Regions from separate parts of the Homo sapiens genome. Here region 2 is linked to region 1. Evidence: fine-mapped expression QTL. A gene starts in region 1. The other region holds a variant in brackets. All regions are shown on one strand. Distances are from middle to middle. Region 1 holds the start of TOR3A (torsin family 3 member A). Region 2 overlaps TDRD5 (tudor domain containing 5).

Region 1 (5,235 bases):
TTGGATTGTTTTAATAAACTATTGTTACTATTAATTTTTTCACCATAAATTCACTTATAAACCACCAGTATTAACTAAAGCCATCCTTGCCTCCTGTGTAGACCACCCAGAGCCTCCTCCATGGCTGGGTAGATACAAAAATAAAACTGGCCACGTATTGAGTGTTGATGATGTGCTCATTGAATGAGCTCATTTAATCTTCACAGCAGCCCTATGAGGGGACTATTTTATTATCCCTTTTTATAGGTGAGGAAACAGGCATGGGACGGTTCAGTAACATCCATGGTTGCACAAATAGAAAATGGTAATCACTATATTAGACTGCCATTCAGACTCAAACGACATTTGTTGAGTGAGTTAATTTTTTTTCTTTTCTCTTTTTTCTTTTTTTTTTTTTTTTGAGATGGAGCCCTGCTCTGTCACCCAGGCTGGAGTGCAGTGGTACCATCTTGGCTCACTGCAACCTCTGCCCCCTGGGTTCAAGCCATTCTCCTGCCTCAGCCTCCTGAGTAGCTGGGATTACAGATGCGCACCATCACACTCAGCTAATTTTTGGATTTTTAGTAGAGACTGGGTTTCACCATGTTGGCCAGGCTGGTCTCGAACTCCTGATCTCAGGTGATCCGCCCGCCTCGGCCTTCTAAAGTGCTAGGATTACAGGCGTGAGCCACCACACCCTGCCTAATTTTTTTTGGTTTTCCAATAAGCACTGTGGTGTATGTGCTGTTAACTGTCTCCGGTGGACTCCGCAAGCTCGATGTACACAGTGCTGGGCTGGTGCCATGGCTGCTACTCTATGAAAAGTTTTTGACATCACACTGAATGGCTGAGACACTATAAACATTTTACTTTTCAACTCAACCTCGTGTCCTAGCAAAGGTGCTTTATCTAGTTTCTGTAGCTGTTCGAATGAAAGGCACAAATTTGGTGAGCTGCTGAGAATGGAGCAGACCTGGCACGGTGTGATCTAAGAGACTGGGGTGAACAGATGAATCAAGTTGCCTGTGACATTTGTGAGACACGGTGCTAGTATTCACCTTACTGTCTGGAGGGCCCAACCTCAAAGCCACTAAACATATGACATTAGCCAAGTCCTCTGATCTCTCTAGACAGCAGTTTTCTCCTAAGACAAGACGGCTTTTTGGCTTGGCTGAAGTAAGCCAGGTGATTTTAAACAATGCATTAAGCTCTTCTGAAATCTAACAGCCTTGTTCCATGCTCCTCGCTATGGAGAAGAGAGCGCTGAGGGAAAGAGGCCCTGTAGTCTTTTGCCAATGGTGTCGGATGGGCTGCTCAGTCCCAGCACTTGAAAGTTGCAAACCTAGTCAAGAAAGTGCACACAGTACTTCGGATTTTTATGAGATATAATTACATTGACATGACGCCTCATGATTTACCCATGACTCGGGGGGTTTCCAAACTCCAAACACCTCCAGACTGGAGCCCGTCAATCAGCTTCCTCTTGCTTTTCGTGGACTCCCACTGTGGAAACCTGCTGGTGTTTTGCTGCGGTTTCATTTCCCTCTGCGGAGGAGCCAGGGCAACCTTGGCCAGACAGGCACCTAGCTGTGCCCTTCTTTCCAGGGCCTCTTCTCCACTCAGCTGACTCCCCTGGCCTGCCTAACGCTCCTGACTGAGACGGTTTTCCGGCTTCCTCTAACAGGTTGGCGGGAAGTTGATCTGCAAACGCGAGGCAAAGCAGGAGTGTCCTTATTCGGTAGGCCTCTGATGGGCCACCAGAGCCGTCCGAAAGTCCTAGCGGAGTGATTGACAGTGGCCATTTCAAAGCCTGAGTTCACCTTCTTTGCAACCACAATCACGACCCAGAATAAACTGCTTCCTGGAAGCCGGCTAGTTGCACCTGGCCTGAAGTCAGTCTCGGGACTGCCTCTCAGGACCCCAGACAGGGTTTCGGGTTCCCGCCTGGGTCACGTGTACGGAGGCTGCCAGTGCGCACTCAGCCCGGCCCGCCGGTCGCCACAGCAACACCAATCCCGGGTTCAAGCCCGCCTAGGAAGTGCGGTCCCCGCCTGACCGCCCCGGGCTTAAGGGAGCCTGGCTAGGCCGGCAGCCGGATGGTCCCGCAGCTCGGGGCCGGCCATGCTTCGCGGTCCGTGGCGCCAGCTTTGGCTCTTTTTCCTGCTGCTGCTCCCGGGCGCGCCTGAGCCCCGCGGCGCCTCCAGGCCGTGGGAGGGAACCGACGAGCCGGGCTCGGCCTGGGCCTGGCCGGGCTTCCAGCGCCTGCAGGAGCAGCTCAGGGCGGCGGGTGCCCTCTCCAAGCGGTACTGGACGCTCTTCAGCTGCCAGGTGTGGCCCGACGACTGTGACGAGGACGAGGAGGCAGCCACGGGGCCCCTGGGTAAGACCCCGTCCCCACGGTCCGCCGTTCGCTGCGGAGCAGAGTGCGATCCGGGCGCGGCTGTGGTCGCCTCGCTCCTGTCCGGGGCGACATCTGGGCCCGCAGTCCTGCTCTGCTCAGCCGCCGGTACCGGCTGTGGGCGGGGGCAGCCTCCGCGGAGCAGGGAGCCCCATCACCGCCCTTGCCCCACCCGCGTCCCCTGCGCACCCCCCTGGCGCCCGGCTTCCCGTCCCCCGCCTCCCCTGATCCCTGCGCTTTCCAGATTCTCTCGCACCGCCTGTGCCATCTCCCAGCCCACCCTGGCGTTATTCGAAGGTGTTGCTCTTGACAGCTCTAGGGAACGTCCGCTGTGGACATGCCTGGTGACTGCCGTCTCCCTTGCTGCTTTTGGACGCAGGGCTTGAGGACCGACAGTGGGCCGAGTCGGGGCTGGGAGTTAGAATCTGAGTTCTGGGTGTCCCTCTGTCCCTGACAAGTTGTGTGGCAAGGTTGCCGCATCACTGTAGAGCACCGGATGGTCTCCTCTCGGTCTCACAGCTCCTCCTTTTCCAGGCTGGCGCCTTCCTCTGTTGGGCCAGCGGTACCTGGACCTCCTGACCACGTGGTACTGCAGCTTCAAAGACTGCTGCCCTAGAGGGGATTGCAGAATCTCCAACAACTTTACAGGTTGGACCCCGCATGGCTTCAAGGGGCTAGGGATCTGTGGGGAGGGGAGGCAGTCCAGGGGAAATGGTTAGATGCAAGGGACCTTTCGTCATCCTGCCCAGCCTCCCGACAAGCAGGAACTGCCACAGTCTGACTGAAGTTTTGAGGGAGTACCAAATGCTTGAGTCAGGGAAGCCCCTTTTTAGCCTCTAGCTTAATAGCCCAGGCAAACTGAGCTGTTTGTCAGGCCCAGAGCACCTTGTTTCACTCTAAACAGAAACAGCTACCTCTCAGAGGGGGCTGGAACTATCCAGAGAGAACTGATCAGAAATTCTGGGTTGTGATTAAAAGTGTCCCTTTCTTTTCTTTTTTTTTTTTGAGACGGAGGCTTGCTCTGTCACCCACACTGGAGTGCAGTGGTGCGATCTCAGCTCACTGCACCCTCCGCCTCCTGGGTTCAAGCAATTTTCCTGCCTCAGCCTCCCGAGTAGCTGGGATTACAGGTGCCTGCCACCACGTCCGGCTAATTTCTGTATTTTTAGTAGAGGCGGGGGGGGGGGGGGGGGGCGGGTTTCACCATGTTGGCCAGGCCGGTCTCGAACTCCTGACCTTGTGATTTGCCTGCCTTGGCCTCCAAGAGTGCTGTGATTACAGGCGTGAGCCACTGTGCCATGGCAACCAGTATTTTCTAATTAGTTTGGGTTGCTTGATTTGCATATCGCAGTTGATTTGCATTTTCACTCTCACAAGGTGATCTTTGGCCCCATGTTCTGAAACCTGTTCAGACATTTGCAAAAGCTTCCTCTCTTTTCCCCAGGAGCAATTTCTTGCCCAGAGTTCTCCTGATCCCAGGTCCTTCAATCTCCATAAATGAGGCCCACCCCAGATATTTAGGTCACTTAATTGGCCAAAATGCCAATAACACAGTGTGTTTAGGGACACAGTCTGGCTCAGGACAGAAGATAGGACTACATACAGGTCAGGAAGTCTTAATTTGGATCACTGCTGACTTGGATAAGACCCTAGGTAGCAATTAGCAAGTTACTTTCTGTCCTCAACATGCCTTTTGTTCGACAAGGGCCTGGATATCCAAATTGTTCTGGCCAGCGGATTGGAGACCCCTCCTAGTCGTGCCTCTTCCTTGCTGGCAAACTGAAGAGTCCTTCCCAAGTGTCCGTTTCCTCAGCTGTATTTTATTTTATTTTTTTTACTTATTTATTTTGAGACCAAGTCAGTCTCTGTCACCTAGGCTGGAGCAATCTCGTCTCACTGCAAACTCTGCCTCCCAGGTTCAAGCGATTCTCTTCCCTCAGCCTCCCGAGTGGCTGGGATTATAGGTGCCCACCACCATGCCCAGCTAATTTTTGTATTTTTAGTAGAGAGGGGGTTCACCATGTTGGCTAGGCTGGTCTCGAACTCCTGACCTCGTGATCCGCCCGCCTCAGCCTCCCCAAGTGCTGGGATTACAGGCGGGAACCACCTCGCCCAGCCAGTTTCCTCAGCTTTAAATGGGAATAATAATGCCTGCCTTGCAGAATTGTGAAGACCAAATGTAAAACACTTAGCCCAGTTCTGAATACAGAGAAAAAAGCAGCAAATGTTAATTTTCTTCTATGTCACTACTACTTTTGGAGCAATGTGTGATGCCCTCAATGTTTTATCATAGACCTTGACCTCCCAAGGCTCCAGAATACCTGCTCTGGGCTGGCTTAAGGTGTTCAACCAATTGATCCTGGATTTGGAATGCTCACCCACAGCTGGCCGCACACCCTGCCTGTCTGCACTGTGGCTCCTGGTAGCGCCATCTCCAAATCCTACAACCTCACGTCTGACAGGAGGAAGTTAGACCTAGCAGAAGGCTTTGCACACTGGAGCTGCTCTCACCAAGTGTTGGCTGAATTGAATGAGAATGAATAAAATCAGGCTTCTCCATAAAACAGGGAGCCCTGAAACCAAGGGATGGGAGCAGCCTCAGGACATGGGGGACAGGGTTCCTCCCTAGACAGGTCTGTGCCAACTGTTCTGGGTATCTGCAGGATCTTTAGGAAGGGTGATTCCACTCTCCCTGAGTCCCATCTTGATTTCCCAAACTCTTCAAAAAGTAGTCCTTGAGGCTGGGCGCAATGGCTCACGCCTGTAATCCCAGCACTTTGGGAGGCCGAGGTGGGCGGATCTCGAGGTCAGGAGTTCAAGACCAGCCTAGCCAACCTGGTGAAACCCGTCTCTACTAA
Region 2 (5,235 bases), 600 kb after region 1:
ATGAGTGAGAACATGTGGTGTTTGGTTTTCTATCCTTGCAATAGTTTGCTCAGAATGATGGTTTCCAGCTTCATCCATGTCCCTACAAAGGACATGAACTCATCCTTTTTTATGGCTGCATAGTATTCCATGGTGTATATGTGCCACATTTTCTTAATCCAGTCTATCATTGATGGACATTTGGGTTGGTTCCAAGTCTTTGCTATTGTGAATAGTGCTGCAATAAACATACATGTGCATGTTTCTTTATAGCAGCAGGATTTATAATCCTTTGGGTATATACCCAGTGATGGGATGACTGGGTCAAATGGTATTTCTAGTTCTAGATCCTTGAGGAATCGCCACACTGTCTTCCACAATGGTTGAACTAGTTTACAGTCCCACCAGCAGTGAAAAAGTGTTCCTATTTCTCCAAATCCTCTCCAGCAGCTGCTGTTTCCTGACTTTTGAATGATCGCCATTCTAACTGGTATGAGATATTATCTCATTGTGGTTTTGATTTGCGTTTCTCTGACGGCCAGTGATGCTGAACATTTTTTCATGTGTCTGTTGGCTGCATAGATGTCTTCTTTTGAGAAGTGTCTATTCATATGCTTTGCCCACTTTTTGATGGGGTTGATTTTTTCTTGTAAATTTATTTAAGTTCTTTGTAGACTCTGGATATTAGCCCTTTGTCAGATGGGTAGATTGCAAAAATTTTCTCCCATTCTGTAGGTTGCCTGTTCACTCTAATGGTAGTCTCTTTTGCTGTGCAGAAGCTCTTTAGTTTAGTTAGATCCCATTTGTCAATTTTGGCTTTTGTTGCCGTTGCTTTGGTGTTTTAGACATGAAGTCCTTGCCCATGCCTATGCCCTGAATGGTATTGCCTAGGTTTTCTTCTAGGGTTTTTATGGTTTTAGGTCAAATATTTAAGTCTTTAATCCATCTTGAATTAGTTTTTGTATAAGGTGTAAGGAAGGGATCCAGTTTCAGCTTTCTACATATGGCTAGCCAGTTTTCCCAGCACCATTTATTAAATAGGGAATCCTTTCCCCATTTCTTGTTTGTGTCAGGTTTGTCTAAGATCAGATGGTTATAGATGTGTGGTATTATTTCTGAGGCCTCTGTTCTGTTCCATTGGTCTATATCTCTGTTTTGGTACCAGTACCACGCTGTTTTGGTTATTGTAGCCTTGGTATAGTTTGAAGTCAGGTAGCGTGAAGCCTCCAGCTTTGTTCTTTTGGCTTAGGATTGTCTTGGCAATGCGGGCTCTGTTTTGGTTCCATATGAACTTTAAAGTAGTGTTTTCCAATTCTGTGAAGAAGGTCATTGGTAGTTTGATGGGGATGGCATTGACTCTATAAATTACCTTGGGCAGTATGGCCGTTTTCATGATATTGATTCTTCCTATCCATGAGCATGGATTGTTCTTCCATTTGCTTGTATCTTCTTTTATTTTGTTGAGCAGTGGTTTGTAGTTCTCCTTGAAGAGGTCCTTCACATCCCTTGTAAATTGGATTCCTAGGTATTTTATTCTCTCTGAAGCAATTGTGAATGGGAGTTCACTCATGATTTGGCTCTCTGTTTGTCTGTTATTGGTGTATAGTAATGCTTGTGATTTTTGCACATTGATTTTGTATCCTGAGACTTTGCTGAAGTTGCTTATCAACTTAAGGAGATTTTGAGCTAAGATGATGGGGTTTTCTAAATATCCAATCTTGTCATCTGCAAACAGGGACAATTTGACTTCCTCTTTTCCTAACTGAATACCCTTTCTTTCTTTCTCCTGCCTGATTGCCCTGGCCAGAACTTCCAATACTATGTTGAATAGGAGTGGTGAGAGAGGGCATCCCTGTCTTGTGGCAGTTTTCAAAGGGAATGCTTCCAGTTTTTGCCCATTCAGTATGATATTGGCTGTGGGTTTATCATAAATAGCTCTTATTATTTTGAGATACATCCCATCAATACCTAATTTATTGAGAGTTTTTAGCATGAAGGGCTGTTGAATTTTGTCAAAGGCCTTTTCTGCATCTATTGAGATAATCACTTGGTTTTTGTCTTTGGTTCTGTGTATATGAGGAATTACGTTTATTGATTTGCATATGTTGAACCAGCCTTGCATTCCAGGGATGAAGCCCACTTGATCATGGTGGATAAGCTTTTTGATGTGCTGCTGGATTTGGTTTGCCAGTATTTTATTGAGGATTTTGCATCCATGTTCATCAGGGATATTGGTCTAAAATTCTCTTTTTTTGTTGTGTCTCTGCCAGGCTTTGGTATCAGGATGATGCTGGCTTCATAAAATGAGTTGGGGAGGATTCCCTCTTTTTCTATTGATTGAAATAGTTTCAGAAGGAATGGTACCAGCTCCTCTTTGTACCTCTGGTAGAATTCGGCTGTGAATCTGACTGGTCCTGGACTTTTTTTGGTTGGTAGGCTATTAATTATTGCCTCAGTTTCAGAGCCTGTTATTGGTCTATACAGGGATTCAACTTCTTCCTGGCTTAGTCTTGGGAGGGTGTATGTGTCCAGGAATTTATCCATTTCTTCTAGATTTTCTAGTTTATTTGCACAGAGGTATTTACAGTATTCTCTGATGGTAGTTTGTATTTCTGTGGGATCAGTGGTGATAGCCCCTTTATCATTTTTTATTGCATCTATTTGATTCTTCTCTCTTTTGTTCTTTATTAGTCTTGCTAGTGTTCTATCTCCTTTGTTAATCTTTTCAAAAAACCAGCTCCTGGATTCATTGATTTTTTGAAGGGTTTTTTGTGTCTCTATCTCCTTCAGTT[C/T]TGCTCTGATCTTAGTTACTTCCTGTCTCCTGCTAGCTTTTGAATGTGTTTGCTCTTGCTTCTCTAGTTCTTTTAATTGTGATGTTAGGGTGTCAATTTTAGATCTTTCCTGGTTTCTCTTGTGGGCATTTAGTGCTATAAATTTCCCTCTACACACTGCTTTAAATGTGTCCCAGAGATTCTGGTATGTTGTGTCTTTGTTCTCATTGGTTTCAAAGAACATCTTTATTTCTGCCTTCATTTTGTTATGTACCCAGTAGTCATTCAGGAGCAAGTTGTTCAGTTTCCATGTAGTTGAGCGGTTTTGAGTGAGTTTCTTAATCCTGAGTTCTAATTTGATTGCACTGTGGTCTGAGGCACAGTTTGTTATAATTTCTATTCTTTTACCTTTGCTGAGGAGTGCTTTACTTCCAACTGTGTGATCAATTTTGGAATAAGTGTGATGTGGTGCTGAGAAGAACATACATTCTGTTGATTTGGAGTGGAGAGTTCTGTAGATGTCTATTAGGTCTGCTTGTTGCAGAGCTGAGTTCAATTCCTGGATATCCTTGTTAACTTTCTGTCTCATTGATCTGTCTAATGTTGACAGTGGGGTGTTAAAGTCTCCCATTATTATTGTGTGGGAGTCTAAGTCTCTTTGTAGGTCTCTAAGGACTTGCTTTATGAATCTGGGTGCTCCTGTATTGGGTGCATATATATTTAGGATAGTTAGCTCTTCTTGTTGAATTGATCCCTTTACCATTATGTAATGGCCTTCTTTGTCTCTTTTGATCTTTGTTGGTTTAAAGTCTGTTTTATCAGAGACTAGGATTGCAACCCCTGCTTTTTTTTTTTTTTCCATTTGCTTGGTAGTTCTTCCTCCATCCCTTTATTTTGAGCCTATGTGTGTCTCTGCACATGAGATGGGTCTCATGAATACAGCACACTGATGAGTCTTTATTCTTTATCCAATTTGCTAGTCTGTGTCTTTTAATTGGAGCATTTAGCCCATTTACATTTAAGGTTAATATTGTTATGTGTGAATTTGATCCTGTCATTATGATGTTAGCTGGTTATTTTGCCCGTTAGTTGATGCAGTTTCTTCCTAGCATTGATGGTCTTTACAATTTGGCACGTTTTTGCAGTGGCTGGTACCAGTTGTTCCTTTCCATGTTTAGTGCTTCCTTCAGGAGCTGTTGTAAAGCAGGCCTGGTGGTGACAAAATCTCTCAGCATTTGCTTGTCTGTAAAGGATTTTATTTCTCCTTCACTTATGAAGCTTAGTTTGGCTGGATATGAAATTCTGGGTTGAAAATTCTTTTCTTTAAGAATGTTGAATATTATCCCCCACTCTCTTCTGGTTTGTAGAGTTTGTGCAGAGAGATACGCTGTTAGTCTGATGGCCTTCCCTTTGTGGGTAACCTGACCTTTCTCTCTGGCTGCGTTTAACATTTTTTCCTTAATTTCAACTTTGGTGAATCTGACAATTATGTTTCTTGGAGTTGCTCTTCTCAAGGAGTATCTTTGTGGTGTTCTCTGTGTTTCCTGAATTTGAATGTTGGCCTGCCTTGCTAGGTTGGGGAAGTTCTCCTGGATAATATCCTGCAGAGTGTTTTCCAACTTGGTTCCATTCTCCCCATCACTTTCAGGTACACCAATCAGACGTAGATTTGGTCTTTTCACATAGTCCCATATTTCTTGGAGGCTTTGTTCATTTCTTTTTACTCTTTTTTCTCTAAACTTCTCTTCTTGCTTCATTTCATTCATTTGATCTTCAGTCACTGATACCCTTTCTTCCAGTTGATCGAATCAGCTACTGAAGCTTGTGCATGCATCACGCAGTTCTCATACCATGGTTTTCAGCTCCATCAAGTCTTTAAGGTCTTCTCTATGATGTTTATTCTAGTTAGCCATTCATCTAATCTTTTTTCAAGGTTTTTAGCTTCTTTGCTATGGGTTCGAACATCCTCCTTTAGCTCAGAGAAGTTTGTTATTACCGATCATCTGAAGCCATCTTCTCTCAACTCGTCAAAGTCATTCTCCATCCAGCTTTGTTCCATTGCTGGTGAGGAGCTGCGTTCCTTTGGAGGAGAAGAGGAGCTCTGATTTTTAGAATTTTCAGCTTTTCTGCTCTGGTTTCTCCCCATCTTTGTAGTTTTATCTACCTTTGGTCTTTGATGATGGTGATGTACAGATGGGGTTTTGGTGTGGATGTCCTTTCTGTTTGTTAGTTTTCCTTCTAACAGTCAGGACCCTCAGCTGCAGGTCTGTTGGAGTTTGCTGGAGGTCCACTCCACACCCTGTTTGCCTGGGTATCACCAGCAGAGGCTGCAGAACAGCAAATATTGCAGAACGGCAAATGTTGCTGCCTGATCCTTCCTCTGAAAGCTTCATCTCAGAAGGGCACCTGGCTGTATGAGGTGTCAATTGGCCCCTACTGGGAGGTGACTCCCAGTTAGGCTATTCAGGGGTCAGGGACCCACTTC

The links.
Region 2: its variant is fine-mapped to the expression of TOR3A in aorta (GTEx, PIP 0.94).

What each region holds. Positions count from the first base shown.
Region 1 is chr1:179,080,029-179,085,263 of GRCh38, forward strand. It overlaps TOR3A (torsin family 3 member A), which reads left to right and starts at 2,042. Exons shown (of 6, transcript NM_022371.4): 1 at 2,042-2,359; 2 at 2,912-3,025. The coding sequence starts at 2,101. RefSeq lists silencers at 2,017-2,306, 2,447-2,616, 3,607-3,666.
Region 2 is chr1:179,684,278-179,689,512 of GRCh38, forward strand. The region is part of intron 17 of TDRD5 (tudor domain containing 5); the gene reads left to right. Among named protein-coding and RNA genes, the nearest start is that of FAM163A, 56 kb to the right of the region's middle. The variant C/T (reference allele first, on the strand shown) is at 2,772.